6 linked regions of the Homo sapiens genome follow. The protein of the gene in region 4 interacts with the protein of the main gene of each other region in a pairwise test. Each region holds a gene or a part of one and is shown on either strand. Other genes may lie near its edges.

Region 1 (3,500 bases), on a different chromosome or scaffold from region 4:
GGTTCTGAATCAAGAGAAAAACTTCGGTATTCTCTAAGAAGATAGTACTAAAAACACCCAAACAAACTTTAAGAGGACCTCCACATAAAATAATTTCTAAAAAAATAAATGTTGATGCTTAACAGGTTTTGCTGCTTTATTAGGAAAGCTGTTACAACACTCACAAGGACCTGAGAAGAAATGCAGACAAAACAAAACCTTATTTTCAGAACTCAAGGTATCTATGTAGTTCTGAGGAGATATAAAATGGTGTGAAAATCTGCCTCAAGGCTCTAGAGCAGGGGTTGGGAACCGGTGGTCCAGTGGCCAATTCTGGCCCACCACTTGTTTTTGTAAAATAAGCTCCATTGGAACACAGTCACACTCATTTATTTATGTATGGCTCCTTATGTACTAAAATGGCCAAGCAGACTAGTTGTGACAGAGACTATATAAACAGGCTACAAAGCCAAATGAACCTACTATTTGGCCCTTAGAGAAAAGGGCTACTGACCCCTGCACATGAAGAACTTCATCTTCTTGATGAAGAAAGAGGCTCCCACACTTGTTTTATTCATGCAGGGAACACACAGCAGGGTTACAGCAACAGGAAAACGTTGCACCCCTCAAAACACAAATTGTACAATGATCCAAGAGTCTGTGGATCAAACAATGTGCTTATATAGTCAGTTCCTTGACGTTTTAAGAAAGCTGTCCCCAGCCCTTCTGGTCATAGAGCTGCTTTTGTATCATGTAATTTTCAGATTAGCTTCCCTTCCAGTCAGGCCCTGACTTCCAGAAGCCCAGGTATGACTTCTTGCCAAAGAGGAAAAAAATGCTGCAATGCCACCCCAGATGGCTAGCTAGCATACTGGCTTTCTCTTCACAAAGGCTGACTCGATGCCAGCTAGAGTCAGCTTTAGGCAGCTTTTCCAAAAAGGTTCACTCTAAAAATTCTCCACTTAAAGGAATGAGCCATTTATATTTCAGAATTATTTCCTAGAAATAGGTGCACAAAAACACATACAACCTCTGATATTTATCTAATGCTTTTTAATACCAAAAGCCCTTTCTCTATCTAGTTTCATTGACTCTTCCAGTACACAGGGCCTCCAAGGCTCTCCTGTTTCTGAAACTGTACAATTATGTGAGATTTTTGGCTACTTCCTGGCAAAGCACCCCTTCTCAAACAATTTGGACATGCCAATCAGTAGTTTGAAAAATGAAATGAAAGCAAGAAAACAACAAAAATCCCAAATAACTGTAGTACTCTGGAACTGCTGAAAGTAGTAAAATTGTGCTTTAAGGCCCAATAGGCACAAAATACACTACACACAGATTATTCAGGATCCCAATGTAATGTGTAAATACTGATTAAAAAAAATTACAACTCTACCATACCAGAAATTTGATGTAAGCTAATAGGCTAGCCATAATAAACATTAAACATTTTATTAACAATAATTTTGCTTGCCTTCTTAGAATTTAGAAGGGCTTTGGGGGATGGTTTGGATGGCCCAGGTCTCTTAAAAAAGGTGTCCAAGGAAGTTTGAATTGATGCCTTCTTTGTCTCTCGATTAATGTCCCTGTAGCAAGCAGAGGCATTCACAATCATTGCATTGACTATAAGAACTGGGCTCAAAGTAGACGGTGTTCAAAATGTATGTGGTTAATGAGGATGAGGATGGTGTTTTTCCCCACTGAAGAATACTGCCAGAAGTCAAAATGGACCCAACTCTTCCCCCCTTCACCTTCTCCTACAGATTTACTTAATTCCAAGTTAGAACTTCAGGAGACCAACCTAGCACCGCCAGGAATCTGAGTGCCAAGTATAGCAGAATGGCGGGACCCCAGGCTTTTCGAAATAGCTCTGGTGTGTAGCCCTGTGGCTCTGCCACAGGGTGTGTGACTCTGGACAAGGGATTCAGCCTCACCCAAGCCTTAGCTTCCTCAATATAAAACAAGGGCCATGCTATTTCTATCCACTTTGTATCGAAGGTTTTTTTTTTTACAATTACTAATAAAACATGCATAAAGCACCCAGTAAATGTATGGGTATAGCAGATCCTCTAAAAATGGTGAACACAACGAAGATTACTTTTTATCCTTCACTATCCTGGGGGACTGAGACTTTCACAGCCACCAGAGGGTCCTCTCATACATTACTGACCAGATCAGGAAAAAACTCAAGCAAACAACTCCCACACAGTATTTGCTTCTGCTCCATTGCTGTGTGCTACAACACTGAAAAAGGCTTCTGATAATCAGAGGATTCAGGCTGCCACGAGAACTAGGTAATGGCCAGTCATCAACTGGCCAACAGTGAAAAGGTACTGCCTGCTACTCTGTTCTTTAAAAATTAAAAGAGAAGGCCAGGCATGGTGGCTCACGCCTGTAATCCCAGCGCTTTGGGAGGCTGAGGCAGGCGGATCACGAGCTCAGGAGATCGAGACCATCCTGGCAAACACAGTGAAACCCCATCTCTACTAAAAATACAAAAAACTTAGCCAGGCATGGTGGCAGGTGCCTGTAGTCCCAGCTACTTGGGAGGCTGAGGCAGGAGAATGGCGTGAACCCAGAAGGCGGAGCTTGCAATGAGCCGAGATGGCGCCACTGCACTCCAGCCTGGGTGACAGAGCGAGACTCCGTCTAAAAAAAAAAAAAAAAAATTAAACCAGAAAAAAAAAGGGGGGTGGCGGGGAGAAGGGTTTCTTATGCTCACAACCTAGGATTAGTATGTCTGTCACTAACCAATAAACAAAGGCTTAGTGTAGCCCATGTGAACGGGAAAGCATCAGCAGTTAAAATTTGGTGCTCCTGTTGGAATTCCCAGCTTAAGGAAATTTGGGCATGAAATAAATTTACAGGTGGAAAGAGAAGAAGAGGTCCCAAGGGCTATGGAAAACACAGCAGACTTCGAATTTTTTTTTTTTTTTTTTTGAGATGGAGTCTTGTTCTGTCACCCAGGCTGGAGTGCAGAGGCATGATCTCAGCTCACTGCAACCTTCGCCTCCTGGGTTCAAGTGATTCTCCTGCCTCAGCCTCCCAAGTAGCTGGAATTATAGGCGCCTGCCACCACGCCTGGGTACTTTTTTGTATTTTTAGTAGAGATGGGGTTTCACGTTGGCCAGGCTGGTCTCAAACTCCTGACCTCAAGTGATCTGCCCGCCTCGGCCTCCCAAAGTGCTGGGATTACAGGCGTGAACCACCGTGCCCAGCCTAGACTTAGATTTGAATCCCTACTCTGCCATTTCTCCTGAGCAATTATCTACATTCTCTAAACTCAGCTTCCTCATCTCTAAAAAGAGGACAGTCATTCTCTCTTCTCTGGGTTACTTAAGGATACAATGGGCAAATGTTCATGTCCTTGGATGCAGCAAAAGTCAGTAAATGTCGGCTTAAATACTGGAAATGGGGGTTGGTTTGAAGGAAACGAATAAAACTAGTAAGAGCCCGAGTATCTGGGTATACCTGTAATAGGAAAAAGGGCAAAATGCATGGAGCACTGGTGAGGCATCACA
Region 2 (4,048 bases), on a different chromosome or scaffold from region 4:
TGACTGTTTTGCCCATCTTGCAGGTCTGCTACAAGGATCTAAAAGGCAACAGTTAACATTTATTTGTAACATGCACCAGGTACATGTTATGCACTTGACAGACAGAGCTCCCTGGATTGTTACAAGCAACACTTTGTAAGTCAGAATCTGAGTCTCAGGTCAGGCAACTTTCCTAAGACTACGGAGCTGGGAGAGTGTTAGGACTCAAATCCAGATGTGTCTGCTGCCAAAGCCCAAGCTGCTCATCAGTGAGTTCAACCATAAAAGCTGTTTGCGGCTGGGCAAGGTGGCTCACGCCTGTAATCCTAGCACTCTGGGAGGCTGAGGTAGGCAGATCACTTGAGGTCAGGAGTTCGAGACCAGCCTGGCCAATGTGAGGAAACCCCATCTCTACTAGAAATACAAAAATTAGCCGGCTGTGGTGGCACATGCCTGTAGTCACAGCTACTTGGGAGGCTGAGGCAGGAGAATCGCTTGAACCGGGAAGGTGGAGGCTGTAGTGAGCTGAGATGGCGTCACTGCACTCCAGCCTGGACAACAGAGTGAGACCCTGACTCAAAGAAAAAAAAAAAAAGGCAGTTTACAACAGTAGGTTCAACAAACTTAGGACTCTACATGTTTCCTCTTTCACAAAATGAGTGAGATGTGGCCAGGCATGGTGGCTCACGCCTGTAATCCCAGCACTTCGGGAAGCTGAGGCAGGCACATCACCTGAGATCAGGAGTTCGAGACCAGCCTGGCCAAGTTGGCAAAACCCCATCTCTACTAAAAATACAAAAATTAGCTGGGCATGGTGGCAGGACCCTGTAATCCCAGCTACCCGGGAGGCTGAGGCAGGATAATTGCTTCAACCGGGAGGCAGAGGTTGCAGTGAGCTGAGATCATGCCATTGCACTCCAGCCCGGGTAAGAAGAGTGAAACTCCGTCTCAAAATAAAGAAAAAAATAAAAAAATGAGTGAGATGTGTTGATCTCTAAGATGGATTTGATCATGTCCACCTCTAAAATCCCATGACCCTACATACTCACTGGACCGATTTTCAGAACCCACCACAAAGCTTTGATGGTATTAACTGCTCCACGCATCTCAAACTCTTAACTTCTACACCTTTCCAAGGGGAACTGAGACATGAACCGTTTTCCGGGCTCACTCATTTCAACATAGAACTCCCAAATCTCATCCCACAACAAAGAGACCCCAAACCCGATGACATCCAGGAAGGGATTCCAAACTTCCATCCTTGCCTTGTACAAGGTGATGTTTGAAGCATGTGGAAAGTGCAATGTGGCCACAAACAGGTGGACATAGTCACTGTTCAGACCACCCTCGTAAATATTCTCTGCGATGATCTTGCTGACGAAATTTTTGCCGGTGCCTGTCCACCCGTGCAGGGAGAGCGTGAGAGGTTTCTTGGGCTTTGGGTTGTTTATGAAACCAAACACGGCATTTAAGATGATTTTCTTTGCAAGATGCTGTCCAAAGAGGTTGTCGTCCAGATCCTTCTGCAGTGCTGGGAAAGACAAAGCCAATCAGGAGTGGGGAAGAAACAGCGGCAAAATGTAGCCACATTTACAGCCCATAAGAAAGCCAGCAAAGCCGTCTAGACGCCCTCCAAGCACCTTGCGAAACCTCAAGTACTGCGGTCTGTAAGCTCCTGGCCCAGAGGGGACGGCGGTCCAGGGAGCCCTCCCTTTGCTGGTCCTGCCTATTCTAAAGCCCTGGCCCGACTCCTTCCCGAAAAGCCCCTTGGTGCCACTGCCACTGCCACCAGTTTGCACCCCTAACCCCTGTGCTGCTCCTCCCACCCCAAGGCAGAGCCGGGAAAGGAAACAGTTTGGTCCCTCCTGGTCGGCTGCGGAAGAGTCCTCACCATCCTTCCTGTCTCCCGCTAGGCTAGAAAGGAGGCAGAACCCACTTCGGAGGGAGGTTACCACTGGTCCACCCCCAGCTTAGCGCAAAGTAGGCCAACCTGCAGCCTGGCTCCTCAGGTCTCCGACTTAAGTCTGGCACGTCTGTGGTCATGGCCGAGGAGCCAGGCCTCATCCTGCAGGCCGGCCGCTTGGCTTCCGGGGTCCGGCCCCCGCGGACTCAGCTCTGCCCAGGCCCGGCCCTCCTGGGATGTGACCCCTACCCCGGCCTGGCCCTAGTGCCATCCCCCAGCCCCAGCCCCAGCCCCAGCCCCCGCTCCTGAGCCCCAGCCCCCAAACTCCGCTCCAGCCCCAGTCCTAGCCCGGCCCTACTGCCATCCCCCAGCCTCCATCCACCATCCTCAATCCCCTAGCCCCAGCCAACCGCCCTGGTCTTAACCCAGCCCTAGTGCGATCCCCCAGCCCCACCCCCAGCCCCCGGGCCCCGCTCCATCCCCCAGCCCCAGCCCCAGCCCCAACCCGGCCCTAGTGCCATCGCCCAGCCCCAGCCCCCAGGCCCCGCTCCAGCCCTAGTCCTAGCCCGGCCCTGGTGCCATCCCCCGGCCTCCATCCTCCATTCTCCATGCCCTGGTCCTAGTTCAGCCCTAGTGCCATCGCCCAGCCCCAGCCCCAGCCCCAGCCTCCAGCCCCCGCCCCAGCCTACCCTCCCGGCTAAGGCTCCGCTTCTGCCCGCAGCACTCGGCGAAGAGGCAGTAGAGACGCGGGTAGATGTAGCCGGTGAGGACGCCGGCCAGGGCCAGTCCCAGGCTGATGGGCTCCACCGCCTGCACCACGGACGGCGCCAGCAGCAGCAGGCCCAGCACGGCCCGGCCCAGCTTCATGCCCGGACCCGCGCCACCCTGCTTGTTCTCGCGCCGACCGCGAACCGGTGCAGCCGCCAGACCCACGCTTCCGGTTCCTCCTCTCGCGGAGGCCATCTTTCTTCAGGGCAGCCCTCCTCCCGACGCCGGCGGCCGCCATCTTTGTTCGGTACAAAGCCCTGTTTTGCTTCCGGAAACTCGGTTCTGCTCCGCCCCTGTTGGCCACGTGTTTTTGTTTATGGACGTTATTTTTGCCAGGCATGGTGGCTCCTGCCTGTAATCCCAGCCCTTTGGGAGGCTGAGGCGGGCGGATCACCTGAGGTCAGGAGTTCGAGACCAGCCTGACCAACATGGTGAAACCACGTCTCTACTAAAAATATAAAATTAGCCGGGTGTGGTGGTAGGCACCTGTAGCCCTAGCTACTGGGGAGGCTGACACATGAGAATCGCTTGAACCCAGGAGGCGGAGATTGCAGTGAGCCGAGATCTCACCACTGCACTCCAGCCTGGGAGACAGAGCAAGACTGTGTCCCCTCCCCGCAAATAATAATAATAATAATAATAATAATAACGGACGTTATTTTTTAGAACAGATTTACAGAAAAATTGAGAAGATAGTAGAGAGTTCCCATGTGCCACCCATCCCTGCAATTTCCCCTATTACTAAAATCTTACATTATTAGTGTGCTACATTTGTTAAAATTAACGATGCACTGTTGTCATATTAACTAAAGTGTAGTTTATTCAGATTTCCTTCCTTTTACTTAATGCCTTTTTCTGCTGCAGGTTTCCATTCAGGATACCACATTATATTTCGTTGTCATGTCTTAGACTACTGTTAATGACAGTGTCTCAGCCTTTTATTTTTATTTTAGCTGGAGTGCAGTGGCATGATCTCAGCTCACTGCAACCTCTGCCTCCCAGGTTCAAGCGATTCTCCTGTCTCAGCCTCCTGAGCAGCTGGGATTACAGGCACACACCACCATGCCCGGCTAATTTTTGTATTTTTGGTAGAGACGGGGTTTCACCATGTTGGCCAGGATGGTCTTGATCTGACCTCATGATCTGCCCGTCTCAGCCTCCCAAAGTGCTGGGATTACAGGCGTGAGCCACCGCGCCTGGCCTCAGCTTTTTATTTTTGATGACCTTGATAGTTTTGAGGAGTACTGGCCAAATCTTTGGTGGGCTGGCCCTCTATTGGGATTTGATGTTTTTCTCAGGATTAGACAAGCGTTATGGCGTTTTGGAAGGAAGATCACAGAGGTAAAGTGCTATGCTCATCACATCCTACCAAGGAAGGGTTCTTACTGTTCAACGTTA
Region 3 (3,500 bases), on a different chromosome or scaffold from region 4:
TATGAAGTGGCTTATGAATTTAATGCAAACACTTAAAATCAAATATACAAGGAATCAGGGTTTTCTCTACATGTAAAAGAGCGTCACTGAAGAACTTAGGTTGAATGATATCATAATCCAATTTCTGTATTAGACAAATCCCCCTGGATTTTTCCAGCATCCAGGTTGGAAAGCCTGGAAGCTGACTGCCTTCTAAGAAGGAGACCCAGCAACTTCAGCTACAGAGGAAGTTAGACCCTGAACGAGAAGAAGCAATTCAACGTTGTGGTAAAGACTCTGGGCTCTTGCGTCAGAGAGGTAAGAGATTCAACCCTGACTCTGAGCAACTCACCTCAGCCTCTCTGGGCCTTTATAAAGTAAGAATTCTAATCCATACCTATATTTTGAAAGGTCATTGTGACAATCCATGCAGAGAGCTTAATGCAGTGCCAGGCACTGTATGAGCTCAATAAATGTTAGATATTATTATAAATTGGTGGTATGGGACAGATGCAAGAAACACATCAAAGGTGAAGCTGACCAAACTCAGTGACCAACTATGGGTGAGACTGGGGCAGGCACTGAGGCAAAACTAAGGGTGAGTATTTCTAAGATTCACACTGACTTATCGATGCACTATGTATCCACTGAGATTAGGAAGCTGAGGTGGGGCGGTCTATCATGGAAACTTCCAGAAGAGGGAACTAGAGCCATTTACATCCTATCGCCTCTAACAGATACCCTAAACATTAACCTAAGATAAGGGACAAGAAGGAAAGAGTACATTTCTCTCCCAGGAGGAATTCTGAGAAAATAGCCTTAAATACAGACTGTTCTATGGAGAATAAACTGGCATTTGTGCACATGATTCAACCCATAACCTCAGGAGTTGTTACTAAAACTTGCAACTTTACATTTCAGTGTACACATAACAAATTGTATTTCAGTTTCTCATCAACTCATACACTTAAACAAATCATTTTAATCATAAGAAGTTCAAACTAACAAAACCTAAAACCTATTCAGGAATCAACTTACTTCTCATGGACACATATTGTACATTATCTTCTAAATTAATCCTTATTTTTGATGGCTGAAAAAAAAGATAAAAAATTTAACTTAGTGATTTTAAAACAACAATGCAAACAAATAGCATTTTACTCAATAGTATAAAGGTCTGGGAATATGAATATGATAATTACTGGCTGGGCAGAGGCTCACGCCTGTAATCCCAGCACTTTGGGAGGCCGAGGCAGGTGCATCACTGAGGTGAGGAGTTCGAGACCAGCCTGGCCAACATGGTGAAACCCCATCTCGACTAAAAATACAAAAATTAGCCGGGCGTGGTGGCAGGCACCTGTAGTCCCAGCTACTTGGGAGGCTGTGGCAAGAGAATCGCTTGAATCTAGGAGGTGGAGGTTGCAGTGAGCCAAGATCATGCCACTGCACTCCAGCCTGGGCAACACAGCAAGACTCCGTCTCAAAAAACAAAACAAAACAAAAAAACATGCACACACACACAAAATATACTGAATACATCAGGTACGATCATTACAACACTGTCCCTGACTTGGGAAAGCTTAGTAGAGATAGAAGATCTATCTCAACCAACACATGCTCACTCCTTGCTATTATTAAGTACACGTGGTTCCCCAAAATTTGCTCACAAGCTTTCATAGGCAGCTATGCATTCCCATTATAATTAATGTAAAAACAGCAGCATTTCTAACAATGGAAAACAATGCATGCTGTGGGTAACTAGAAACTTTTGCGTTAGATAAAAAGTTTCTTTTAAATTCCTGAAACAACCAGGAAATTAGTAGAAGCTCCATTATCAATGCTCACCATTTTACCAGCTATTTAGAGGCTCTGAAAGTTTGCATAAAACTGGTAGTAACATTTAGAAACTGTTTTTCTGTAAAAAATAAATAAAATGAAACCAAACCTTAAAATGAAAGCCTATGAACAGAAACTCCTAGTAACATCAATGTTAATGTGCCTCCAGACAGGCTGTCATCAGGTTTAGCTCTTATCTAAGAAAAAACTGGCCATAAAGCAAAACTGGGGCAAGTGAATTCATAGGTACTCTAAGAAGAGAATCAACAGCAGTACTAGGGATACACCCAGACAGGGAACTCACAGAAGGATTCATGGCGAAGGCAGCCCTCAGCTGAGCCTAGCCCAGCAAGCCAGATTTGCCTGAATAAACAACTGTGGGGAGAGAAGAAAAAAGACAGGATTGTGGTACCGGAAATGAACAAAGGTGTGAAGATGTATATGGCATGGCATGTTTCTGGGAACCCACTGAAGTGGCCAGTGTGTAAGTGACTTGACTTTGAAGCTGGGAGGGCATGCTGGCACCACATAAAACTAATGCTAAAGAGTTTGGACTTTATGTCATAACCAGTAGAGAATCACCAAAGGTTTCTGAACCAGACTAGGACATAATTAAGTAAATGGTTTAGAAATATAAGTATGGCAGCAATATGGCAAAAGGACTGGGAAATGAGGAAGCCTGAAGGCAAGGTGAGCAGTTAAGAAGCTCTTTGTTTATACTGGTGTTAACAATATCCTCGGCACAATGATTTCCTTATCATCTATGACAAGATGATAGCATCTATTAACAAATCACCCCAATATGGAATACTCCCATTGAGACAGAATCCCACTGTAAAATTAATTTAGTTGTTAGAATTGAACACGTAGACCTGCTAGGGCATGCAACACTGGAGCTGGGAATGCTGGCCTTGGGGGTAGGGACTAGGTCTGGCCAGCTCTCTCAAACAGTGCTGACAATGGTGACTTGCAAACATGGTATCCAACAGTGAAACTCTGAAGCAGTCCTATCAAAGTCAGACATTAGACAAGTGTGACCAACTGCCATTGCTATTTTTACATTTAACCCCTCTGCTAATAGTATGAGACGGGCCAGCTACGGTAGCAAGATTCTTGAATGGAAAAAAAAAAAATCCATCCTTATCACATTGATTTGAAACACACATAAACAAACATCCTAAATCCTTATATATAAGCTCAGAGGGGCCTTGCTGCAGAGGTTCCCGTTCTTAATTCAGAGTAGCAGGCCCAGGACTTACACACTCTACTTACTGGCTCCCAAAGAGGCTGCCTCGCTAGCTATGCATTCTAGGGTGTCTTCTCTGCTACACACCTCCCTACCCATCTCATCTAGACAGTGGATCACAGGTTGGTACAGAAATAACACCTCAGTTAGGCATAATATGAAAAAAGATGGCTTTGTTTTCCCCACTCTTTGCTATCAATGCAGTTCCATTACATATTGGCTATACTGATGTATGTGGGAAAACAGTCTCCAAGAGCATTCATTTGTTTTTTTTTCCTCTTCAAATACAAAAACACTCTATCTTGGAGGAATCACAACAGTACCATTGCCCCTCAGTGGCAGACATCATATACAGACATATAGATAGAAACATAAGTCCAGGCGCGGTGGCTCATGCCTGTAATCCCAGGACTTTGGGAGGCGGGGTGGGGGGAGGAGA
Region 4 (3,500 bases):
GTGTTTGTTCTAAGCTTCTCTGTGCTGAGTGGAGTTCCCAGTCTACTCCCAATGCAATGGCCTGCTTTCCTCCCAGCAGTCACCTACCTTAAAGAGGTGTGGGTGCTTGATGTAGATTCTTCCTCTGGTGCCCCCCATCCCCAGGGCTCTGAAAAGTAAAAGCCAAGTGGTCAAGATTCCAGAAAGTGTAGTCCTACTAGTGAACTCCTGAGCTGTTTCCTCAATCAGTGCCAAAGCTCTTAAACTTACTTGTTGGCTCGAGATCCCAACACAAAGGTGGTAGATTCATTCAGGCGAGCTGGGTCCCACTGTGCAAAAAATAGAGAAGCTCGTGAGGGTGAAGTTTAATCTGATGGGTAGGACAGAAACACTCCTCCCCCTACCCTTTTCTAACCCTTCCCCTTGTCTATTATTTAATCAACAGTTGACCCAAGACACTGAGTACTCACAATATGCTAGGCCCTGTCTGTGCTAGATACTGGGGATAAAGAGATGAATAAGATACAGTCTCTGTTTTCTAGGATGCCACCAACATATGTACAGATAATTACACCATTGTGCGATGAGGCAAGGACACAAGTGAGTGCAGGGTCTGAGGGCTGCCGAGGGGAGGGTCCAGCCAGGAAGGCTTCCTTAGAGAGGCATTTCCCAAGTTAATTCTGAAAGGGTGAGCACAAGTTGGGGTAAAGGGGGTCAGGAACAAGGGCATTCCAGACAGGGGGCAGCATGAGCAAAGACAGGTGAGAGGCAGCTTGGCCTGCTGGAGAAACTACTAGTAATTCTGTGCTGCTAACAGAGAGAGTACAAATTAGGGAGTGGCAGCTGATGGGGCTGGAGAGAGAAACACAGAGGAGTTGGAGGTCTTAGGAGGTTATGTTCAGGGGACTGCATTTTATTTCTTCTGTAGGCAATGGGGAATCGCTGAAGGCCTCTAAACAGGGAGTGAGAGTCAGATTTCCTTTAAAGATAGCTTAGTCTTCTAGCAATGTGGATAATGGATTTGAAGGGGCAAGACTACAGGCAGGGAGAGCAGTTTAGAGGCCGCTGTGATAAAGCAGTTGGAAAGCTGCTAAGGGCCTGAGCTAGGGCAGCAGTAAGGATGAACAGAAGGAAATAGGAACTGCAATATATTTAAGAGGAAGAATTGTCCAGGACTCGACTGGGTGTAGGGAGGTAAGGAAGAGGAGGAGGAGGCAAAGATGATTAAGATAACGAATGTAAAGAAGGGCTGTGAGGAAAGATTCTAATTTCATGTTTGGATATGCTGAGTCTGAAATGCCTATGAAACTTCCAGCAGAGTGGTCAAGCAGATAGTAGGATAAACAAGTTTTAAAGTAGAAAGAGGCATGGGATGGACAAAGAGGTATGGGAGTTTTAGAACATGGTGGTCCCTGAAACCATAAGAGTATATGTTTTAGATTATCCAGAGAGTTACTTTAGATGGAGAAGTGGGCCAAGGAGAGAATTCTGGGGAACAACCATTTATATAAGTCACTGCTGAGGAAGAACTCAGGAGAGAGAGGGAGGCAACAGAGGCTAATGGTTGAGAGCACAGACTCTGGTGTCAGCGGGTCTTGGGTTTGAGACTCAGCTCGATCACTTACGAGTTATGTGACTTTGGGCAAGTCTTAAGTGCATTAAGTGTATAAGACAACTGAATAAAATAATTTATGCCCACAGGGAAGCTGGCAGAAAAGGAAACGCCTCATTTATAGAATGGTTCACAGAATTGATCTCATAAGTTTGTTATAAAGATTAAATGAGATGGTCTACACAAAAGATTTAGGACACTGCCCGTTACATACTAAGTATTGAATCAGTATTAGTGACCACTAACTCCTATAAGGAGAAGGCTTCAGCAAAGACTCAAGCCCTCTCTTTGTTTTGCCTCTAACTCCAATTCCTACACAGGATCCTCTCTGAGGCCAGTGTGGCTGGAGGTGGAGAGGGGCAGATGGCTCTGGAATGGTGTGCATGCACCCTTCGCCCCCTGCCCCTTTCCCTCATGGTGGGTCCTAGAGATAGTGGGACTATCTCCTGGGATCGTGATCTCTGCCATGCTCACATAATCATACCTTGGGGCCTTCCCGGCGAATTGGTTCACAGGATTTTGGTTTCCATCTGCTTGGAAGGAAAGAATAAAGGTGAATTCTCCAAGGTGAGACCTAGGACTAAATGCCAGCTTGCTGGTGGTGGTAGGAGTTCCTCACACACTCTCACTTTAGCCCTGGACATCCTCCTTCGTGGTGACACATAAGAGGAGGAACAAAGGGAAAAAAAGCACTGGACTAGAAGCCATTCTAGCACTAGCTCTGCTCTTACATAGTGGCATGAGCAACTCCAAGAACCTCTGAGTGGCAGTTTTCTCATCTGTCAAAAGAGACAAAAACAGCAACTGCCCTACCTATCTTGTGTTTGTGAGGAATAAAACTGCTTCGTGTAGGAGACACATCTAAGGTATGACAGTTAATACTAGCCCATCTACTAAGCCAGCTGTTCCAAACTAACCCCACGCCCCTGAACCAGACCAGTGTGGCTTTATTTGATTTAAATACTGGGCTCCCATGTAAAGTTTTGTTTGAAAAAGATTCTGCTGCTTCAGAATTTTTTTTAAAAAGTGGGGTTGGGGGTTGGTTGAGGGGGAAGGAAGGATGAACAGGCAGAACACAGAGGATTTTTAGGGCACTGAAAGCACTCAGTGTGATACTAGAATGGTGGATGCCTGTCACTATGCATTTGTCTAAGTTCATGTACAATACCAAGAGTGAACCCTCATGGAAACTATGCACTCTGAGGATCAAGACGAGTCAAAGTAGGCTCATCAAATGTAACAAATGTACCACTCTGGTGCCTGATGTCGATAATGGGGGAGGCTGTGCATGTGTAGGGTCAGGGAGTATACGGGATATGTCTGTACCTTCCTCTCAATTTTGCTGTGAACCTAAAACTGCTCTAAAAAAATTAAGTCTTAAAAAAATATATATTTGAAAATGACCGTCTTGGAGGCAATGTTAACGATATGACATTAGGCAAGTAATTCTCTGAGTCTGTTATCTGAAAAATTAATGATATCTTCTTTACAGGGTGGCTATAAAGATTAAAAGGTAAAGTATGTAACGTATTTAGACCAGTCATAAGCATCCAATATATACTAACAATGACAAACCTCTGGAGTTTAATCTTTCATCAAGCTGGGCCAAACCGTTCAGGGGGTAAAACAATTTCCTCCTCACTACCCTCCTTCCTCACCCCTCCAACCAGGATAACCCCCCTCCACGATGACTTAAGCTGATGGATCTGATTTTGACAGGCACAGAACCCTGGACTCTTTTCCTTCAGGGCCCCTCTCTCCGTCTGCTCCCCTATGCTCTCACCACACTGTTGGTCCCTACTCACACCATGCCGGCGGCTGCCCGGTCGCTTGACAGGATGTGTCCAGGAGGCCGTCCTTTCCTCTGCCACAAAAAACAGCTGTCAGAGGTCTGACCCTGTGGTTACTC
Region 5 (3,500 bases), on a different chromosome or scaffold from region 4:
GAGGACTATACCAATTAGAATTACCTGATATACTTATGAAGGATATATATTCCTGGGCCCATCTCAGATTTTAGGAATCTGGGGGTAGAACTCAGGAAACAAAATATATATATATATATATATTTTTTTTTTTTTTTTTTGAGACGGAATCTTGCTCTGTAGCCCAGGCTGGAGTGCAGTGGCGCAATCTCAGCTCACTGCAACCTCTGCCTCCCAGTTCCCAGTTCAAGCAATTCTCCTGCCTTAGCCTCCCGAGTAGCTGGGATTACAGGCGCGCCATGATGCCCAGCTAATGTTTTAGTATTTTTAATAGAAACAGGGTTTCACCATGTTGGCCAGGCTGGTCTTGAACTCCTGATCTCATGATCCGCCCACCTCAGCCTCCCAAAGTGCTGGGATTACAGGTGTGAGCCACTGCGCCCAGCCAGAAACTAAAATTTTAATACTTTTTCCAGGCAATTCTTCAACACAAAAGTTGAGATCACTGTTTCCTTCTGTTGTAGCCTAAGTGCTTAGAACTCTGTGACTCCCCAACTATTTATCTCCTGTGGCTTTGTAATCTGACTCCAATCTTCTAGGTTCCTTAGTTGCCTATCCTTGACTTGTACTTATTTCTAAAAATCTTGGCCCTGGTTTGGTAATATAATAAAGACTTGGATATGGAAATTTTAGCTCTGAAGTCCATATAAACTCCAATACTGACATAGGAATAAAAAGCTCCAGTTCCTTTCCCTGAAATCATGGAGCTTTTGTTAAATATCACCTATGGTGTTGACTGGACATTGGATTGACCCAGTATGTCAATTCTTTTGTTGCCAGATCTGCAGAGAACAAGATGCTCACTACTACAGACTCAACTATTTGAATTCCTGCTTATTGTCTCTAAAGAAAGAAGGCACAAATTTTCTTGTCAGGGATGAATGACATTTGCTAAGAGAACAGTTGTCACTATATAGATAGAGGGTGCCTATGAGAATGTTCCAGTTCCTAGAGTAGTGATGAAATGAGTTCTCCTAAGATGTCTCTAGATCTTAATGATGGGACAAAAGAATGTCTACTTGATATGAATAAGAGCTTCTTTATTCAATAAGGGATAGTCTTTGATAGCAGCAATGAGGATCCTGATACAATGGCTTCTAGATACTTTCATGCTTAGTAGGTTAGTGATCCAAACTGTAGAGATAGTACGTTCATGTATCCAGGGCTACCTCTCATTCTCCTTCCTTAATCCTAGCTAGTTCTTATAGTCCTACTTTGTCATCTTTCTGGTTTGCCTGAGGTGACTAGAATAAAAAGCAAATCTTAAATTATAGGAGTCTTTTGCTATTTCCAGCAAACTGATCCTTGCAGAAAAGGATTAAATCCAACCTATCTTTGTATCCCACAAAGTACCTCATCACGCACTGCTAGACTTGACATGTTTAACTGAGTGCCTTGTTCAACACCAACAAGAGAACCCTCCTCATAAAAAGCATCTAAAAGCTTAAGCCTCATATAAAAGGTGCTTTCCACGCTACCTCCCACCAAGGTCACGGGATAAGGATAGACATTTAAGTCATGGTGGTCATGCAATGCATTCAGATTTCTCTCTTGCCAACTGAACTAAAAGAAACACACTGTCACCATCAACAGGTAAACTCTAGTTGAAAGAACAGTTCAAGTCAACACCATGGCAAATCAAATCCACTTACCAGTCAGAGAAGCAGAGACTATGAAAAACCAGGGCAATACAAACAGAACTGGAAGGGAGAAGTGAGAAAGGGAGATGAAGCAGACATGGAAGGAGATGCTGAGACAAGAAACCATTTATCACCAGAACGAGAGCTTGAGAGACTAGCTTCTCAGATTCCTAACGTTTCTCCCATTCACACAAGGTCTAGTCACTCTTCTTCAACCCAAAACAGCTGAATCCCTACAACGCCTGTCCTTGAAGCCAAATGATCCCTAATTCAAGCATTATTTTTTAGTACGTACACCAAGACAAATAGAAAGCTAGAAACATAAATCCAAGGAGGAAAAAATAATTCTACCAGGAAAAAACTGAAATCACAGGTAGCCAAAAAGCTTTGTAAATATGAATCTTATTTATCAGGAAGTACCATCAATATTTGTCATATTCCTGCTAATGAAACAAATTAAACTTTGTCTTTTTTTAATAGAAATTATCACAGTATTGACAAATGAAAAATTGTCTCAAACCCAGAGAAGACAAAAATCAGGTGATCTACCTTTATTTGTTAATACATTTGAAAATATTTTGTTAGCCTGTTTAAAGCAGACTTCCGTTGTTGTCTGTAATAATCGATAGTATATTGGATTAACAGCCTCATCTTTTAAGACAGGCTTTATAATCATATGGCTGATTAAGGGGCAGCAAAGTATAACCAACCCTGTAACTATCCTTTAACTTGTACCTAACAAAAATAGTAACCATAACCTCCCCTTTTATTCTGTAAAGATCCTTTTTCTGAAAATATCTTTGAACTAACTTCCTTTAAAGCTAGTTCCCTTGCAACAAGTACAAAATAAAACTATGACATATGCTGACAATCAATTAATCTGACAAGTTTGCATTAACACTGTCAAAACCAAACTAATGTCAAAATAGCTGTAATTTTGGTTATCTAACACAGATTCTAACATATCCTCTCTAGCAACAAACATACCATGTAAGCCTTGAATTTATTTAAAATTTAAATCTTTTTTTGTTTGTTTGTTTGAGATAGAGTCTCGCTCTGTTGCCCAATCTGGTGTGCAGTGGCGCCACCTTGGCTCACTGCAACCTCCGCCTCCCAGGTTCAAGTGATTCTCCTGCCTCAGCCTCCTGAGTAGCTGGGAGTACAGGTGTGTGCCACCACGCCCGGCTATATTTTTGTATTTTTAGTAGAGGCAAAGTTTCACCATGTTGGTCAGGCTGGTCTTGAACTCCTGACCTCATGATCCATCTGCCTTGGCCTCCCAAAGTGCCGGGATTACCGGCATGAGCCACCACGCCCAGCCTCATTTAAATCTTACACATTTTATTTGTGGACAATTTCAATGTTATCGTTAACTTTTACCAGAAAATTTTAATGGGTCCTAATATTATAATTCCTCATTTAAAAAAAAAAAACTAGCCGACCAGTGGCTTACGCCTGTAATCCCAGCACTTTGGGAGGCCAAGGCGGGTGGATCACCTGAGGGGGGATTCGAGACCAGCATGACCAACATGGAGAAACCCCGTCTCTATTAAAACTACAAAATTAGCCGGGCATGGTGGCGCATGCCCATAATCCCAGCTACTCAGGAAGGCTGAGGCAGGAGAATCACTTGAACCTGGGTGGCAGAAGTTGCGGTGAGATGACATCGCGCCATTGTACTCCAGCCTGGGTAACAAGAGCGAAACTCCATCTCAAAAAAAAGAAAAAAAAAAAAAACCTAGCCAATATTCAGATTCTCATAACAAAAAAAAAAATTGGTATGTTTGCAATGTCAGGTTCATCTAAAAAATAAACTTTTAA
Region 6 (3,415 bases), on a different chromosome or scaffold from region 4:
AGCTAGGATTGCAGGCATGCGCCACCACGCCCAACTAATTTTGTATTTTTAGTAGAGACGGGGCTTCACCATGTTGGTCGGGCTGGTCTGGAACTCCTGACCTCAGATGATCTGCCCTCCTTGTCCTCCCAAAGTGCTGGGATTACAGGCATGAACCACTGCACCTGCCCAGCCTTAATCTGCCTCTTCTTGATGATTTTCAGTGAGCCTTCAGTGAGCCTTCAGTGAGCACGGGGAAGTCCCTATAACCTGCAACTAAAGCATTTAAATTTTGCCTCAGGCTCTGTTTTCTGGAGAACCAGAGCAACAACACATTGAACCTGTTCTTGAAGGACCAGCTCAGGGCTGGCTTTCCATGGAGTCCACATTGGGAAATGGTGGTGTCGAGAACTCCTTTACTGGGACCTAAGCCTAGCCCTGCCATTGCCTCCTACCAGGGGTCCTGTTCATTCACACTCAACCCTCATCTCCAGGAAAAAAAGGCTGAATGAAACCCCGGCTCCTTTGAAGAACAGGAAGAGAGCATTGTGCATTTATTAAAACAACATATAACACAAACTCAGTTACCACCCCGTATGTCTGGGATAGGCACTGAAATACAGCACATCGTCCCTGTGAGTGCTACCCCATCCTCCTGCTCAGGAAAGGAAGTGGGCAGCTGTATCAACCTGGCTTCCTTCCCCTCTTTCTGACAATCGCAGGTCACCCAACGACCAGGCATTATTATACAAAAGTTCCTTTACAAAAAGCACCAAATTGGCATACATATACAAGTATATACAAAAATCACATTTTAAAAATGTACAAAATATTCCATTTTGCACCAATGTAGAAAAGTGTCCTGTGTGATTGTTTCAAGCACGTTTCCAATTCTGGTTCAGTGTCTGCTGGACGCAGCGGTGAGGGTCCTACCCTAGTCCCTGCTCTCTGAGCAGAGAGAAGACATCACCTCCCCATTGCCCCTCCAGGGGCCCCGACCCCTCCCACCCTGGGCCTGTCACCAAGGCCGCTGGGCCCCTCCCCACCCTCTCCAGTCTCTCTGCATCTGGGGGCCTCTCATTCATCCAGCTCCTTACTGGTGTCCTGAAATGAAGAAAAAGATACAGAGGCAAGGGGTGAGACAGGGACTCAGGAGGATCCAAGGCTTACCAAGCTACTGTTTATTCAAACAGGAGTTTGAATAAAACATCAAACTCCAATTCCTCCCGGTCTCTTCCTTTTAAAACCAAAATAGAATTTAGCTGCCCAAATATTATGGATTGTACATCAGTACAAAACTCCAAAAGACTACCTATAGTTTTCAACTGGATTGGAATTTAGTTTCAGTACCTGTGGTTTGAAAAATAACATTTGCAAGCATGTGCTAATTAGCAAACGTCCTTCCTATGCATCAGACACCGTGCTAAACGATTATCTTATTCACTTCCCACTACAACCTTTTGACGTCAGTACTGTTAGACCCCCATACACAGATGAGTAGCCCAAGACTCAGAGAAATTGTGAGCTGCTGTGATTCAGAACCCAGGCTCCTAATCAAACTCTGCCAGGCTGGCAAACTCAGATGCCTACAAGGAGCCAGCAGATAACATGAATGAGTGAAGCAAGCGGGACTGGTGGTGGTGGGGCTGGGCAAACTGGCAAGGGCATGTCCCATTTTTCTTTTCTTTTCTTTGTTTTTTTTTGAGATGGAGTTTCACTCTTTTGCCCAGGCTGGAGTGAAGTGGCGTGATCTCGGCTCACTGCAAGCTCCGCCCCCCTGGGGTTCTAGCGATTCTCCTGCCTCAGCCTCCCAAGTAGCTGGGATTACAGGTGCCCGTCACCACGCCTGGCTAATTTTTGTATTTTTAGTAGAGACGGGGTTTCACCATGTTGGCCAGGATGGTGTCAAACTCCTGACCTCAGGTGATCCGCCTGCCTCGGCCTCCCAAAGTGCTAGGATTACAGGCGTGAGCCACCATGCCAGCGTGTCCCCTTTAAAGGGGAGAGCCACTGCCCAGAGCCAGCACTCTGGGACTACAAGGAAGTTCAAGTCCAGCATTGTTTGCTTTTTCTAAACTTTCACAAGGTGAAAATGCAGATTCTTAGTTCAAATCTCCTTTTTCTTAACCCTTAAAAAAAACCTAATTTTAAAAATGTTAGCAATTAATTTTTTCTTTTAAGAGACAGTGTAGTGTCCTCTGTTGCCAAGGCAAGAGTGCAGTGGCGCAATCATAGCTCACTGCAGCCTCTACCTCTTGGGCTCAAGCAATCCTCCAGCCTCAGCCTTCCGAGTAGCTAGGACTACAGATATGTACCACCATGCCTGGCTAATTTTTAAATTATTTTTGTAAAGACGAGGACTTGCTGTTGACCAGGCTGGTCCCAAACTCCAGGTCTCAAGCAATCCTCCCGCCTCAGCCTCCCAAAGTGCTGGGATTATAGGCACGTACCACCACACCCAGCCAGCAAGTATTTATTTATTTATTTTTTGAGATGGAGTCTCACTCTTGTCACCCAGGCTGGAGTGCAGTGGCACGATCTCGGCTCACTGCAACCTCCACCTCCCAGGTTCAAGCGATTCTCCTGCCTCAGCCTCCTAAGTAGCTGGTACTACAGGCGCCTGCCACCAAATTCAGCTAATTTTTTGTATGTTTAGTAGAGACAGGGTTTCACCATGTTGGCCAGGCTGGCCTTGGCCTCCCCAAGTGCTGGGATTACAGGCTCGAGCCACCGTGCCTGTCCAGCAAGTAGTTTTGTTTGTTTGTTTGTTTGTTTTAATTTAAACACAGTGCTGGCCAAACAAAACACCTCAATGGGCCCAGCCTAGCTCATGAGCCCCTGTCTTTTCCCTCTGCTGTGCCATATTGCTTTCCATTTAAGAAGATCATTTAGATGTGAAATGGGAGCATTTTATTATGAATAGTTTGGGGTTTTTTTCTTTTCTAAGGGTAAAGAGAACAGGACTTTACCCTCAGTAGGGTTAAAGCACGTGCTGGGGACAGTTCTGAGCGTCATTGCCAATGTCTAACACAGTGCTTCACATACAGTAGGCACCTCAGATTGTTGTGGAATGAATGAAGGAACGAAGGAATGGAGGTAGATGAATTTCTTACCTTCTTCCTTCCCTTCTGTGGACTCTTCCTCTTCCTGATCTTCTTCTTCAATGAATTCTTCCTCTTCCTCATCTGTGACAAAAAAACATTTGTGTTAGGATGGGGCCGGTTCCTTGAGGAGCTACTTGAAGAGGAACCAGGCAAGAGAGAGCACGGTCTAAACCCCTTCCTGTGCCCAGTCGGGTCAAACGGCCACACAGCGGCGGCAGTGGTCTGGGAGGGGATGGGCTTGCCAGACCCACGCTGCACAGAGGCCCTGCTCCTGCAATCCCCCGCACTCCGTCCCAGGGAGCTGGGCTCAAGTCACTTCCTTGCTCCAGCAA

Evidence for each region.
Region 1: the proteins of DNTTIP1 (region 4) and ANP32B interact in binary tests that used the Homo sapiens proteins (3 or more experiments, as listed by UniProt).
Region 2: the proteins of DNTTIP1 (region 4) and TOR1A interact in binary tests that used the Homo sapiens proteins (3 or more experiments, as listed by UniProt).
Region 3: the proteins of DNTTIP1 (region 4) and E2F6 interact in a two-hybrid assay, tested with the Homo sapiens proteins (one study listed by BioGRID).
Region 5: the proteins of DNTTIP1 (region 4) and HMBOX1 interact in binary tests that used the Homo sapiens proteins (3 or more experiments, as listed by UniProt).
Region 6: the proteins of DNTTIP1 (region 4) and TRIM63 interact in a two-hybrid assay, tested with the Homo sapiens proteins (one large-scale study listed by BioGRID).

Annotation. Positions count from the first base shown.
Region 1 is NC_000009.12:98,000,341-98,003,840, reverse strand, and holds part of ANP32B (acidic leucine-rich nuclear phosphoprotein 32 family member B), read right to left. Parts: intron 1-3,500. UniProt on the Homo sapiens protein: Multifunctional protein that is involved in the regulation of many processes including cell proliferation, apoptosis, cell cycle progression or transcription.
Region 2 is NC_000009.12:129,821,337-129,825,384, forward strand, and holds the start of TOR1A (torsin-1A precursor), read right to left. Parts: upstream 2,801-4,048; 5' UTR 2,750-2,800; coding exon 2,572-2,749; intron 1,511-2,571; coding exon 1,245-1,510; intron 1-1,244. UniProt on the Homo sapiens protein: Protein with chaperone functions important for the control of protein folding, processing, stability and localization as well as for the reduction of misfolded protein aggregates.
Region 3 is NC_000002.12:11,456,162-11,459,661, forward strand, and holds part of E2F6 (transcription factor E2F6), read right to left. Parts: intron 2,192-3,500; exon of another isoform or gene 2,132-2,191; coding exon of another isoform or gene 2,120-2,131; intron 1,073-2,119; coding exon 1,018-1,072; intron 1-1,017. UniProt on the Homo sapiens protein: Inhibitor of E2F-dependent transcription. Binds DNA cooperatively with DP proteins through the E2 recognition site, 5'-TTTC[CG]CGC-3'. Has a preference for the 5'-TTTCCCGC-3' E2F recognition site.
Region 4 is NC_000020.11:45,801,954-45,805,453, reverse strand, and holds part of DNTTIP1 (deoxynucleotidyltransferase terminal-interacting protein 1), read right to left. Parts: intron 3,456-3,500; coding exon 3,397-3,455; intron 2,122-3,396; coding exon 2,076-2,121; intron 309-2,075; coding exon 250-308; intron 149-249; coding exon 88-148; intron 1-87. UniProt on the Homo sapiens protein: Increases DNTT terminal deoxynucleotidyltransferase activity (in vitro). Also acts as a transcriptional regulator, binding to the consensus sequence 5'-GNTGCATG-3' following an AT-tract.
Region 5 is NC_000008.11:28,896,895-28,900,394, reverse strand, and holds part of HMBOX1 (homeobox-containing protein 1), read right to left. Parts: intron 1-3,500. UniProt on the Homo sapiens protein: Binds directly to 5'-TTAGGG-3' repeats in telomeric DNA. Associates with the telomerase complex at sites of active telomere processing and positively regulates telomere elongation.
Region 6 is NC_000001.11:26,050,801-26,054,215, forward strand, and holds the end of TRIM63 (E3 ubiquitin-protein ligase TRIM63), read right to left. Parts: intron 3,165-3,415; coding exon 3,093-3,164; intron 1,084-3,092; coding exon 1,073-1,083; 3' UTR 501-1,072; downstream 1-500. UniProt on the Homo sapiens protein: E3 ubiquitin ligase. Mediates the ubiquitination and subsequent proteasomal degradation of CKM, GMEB1 and HIBADH.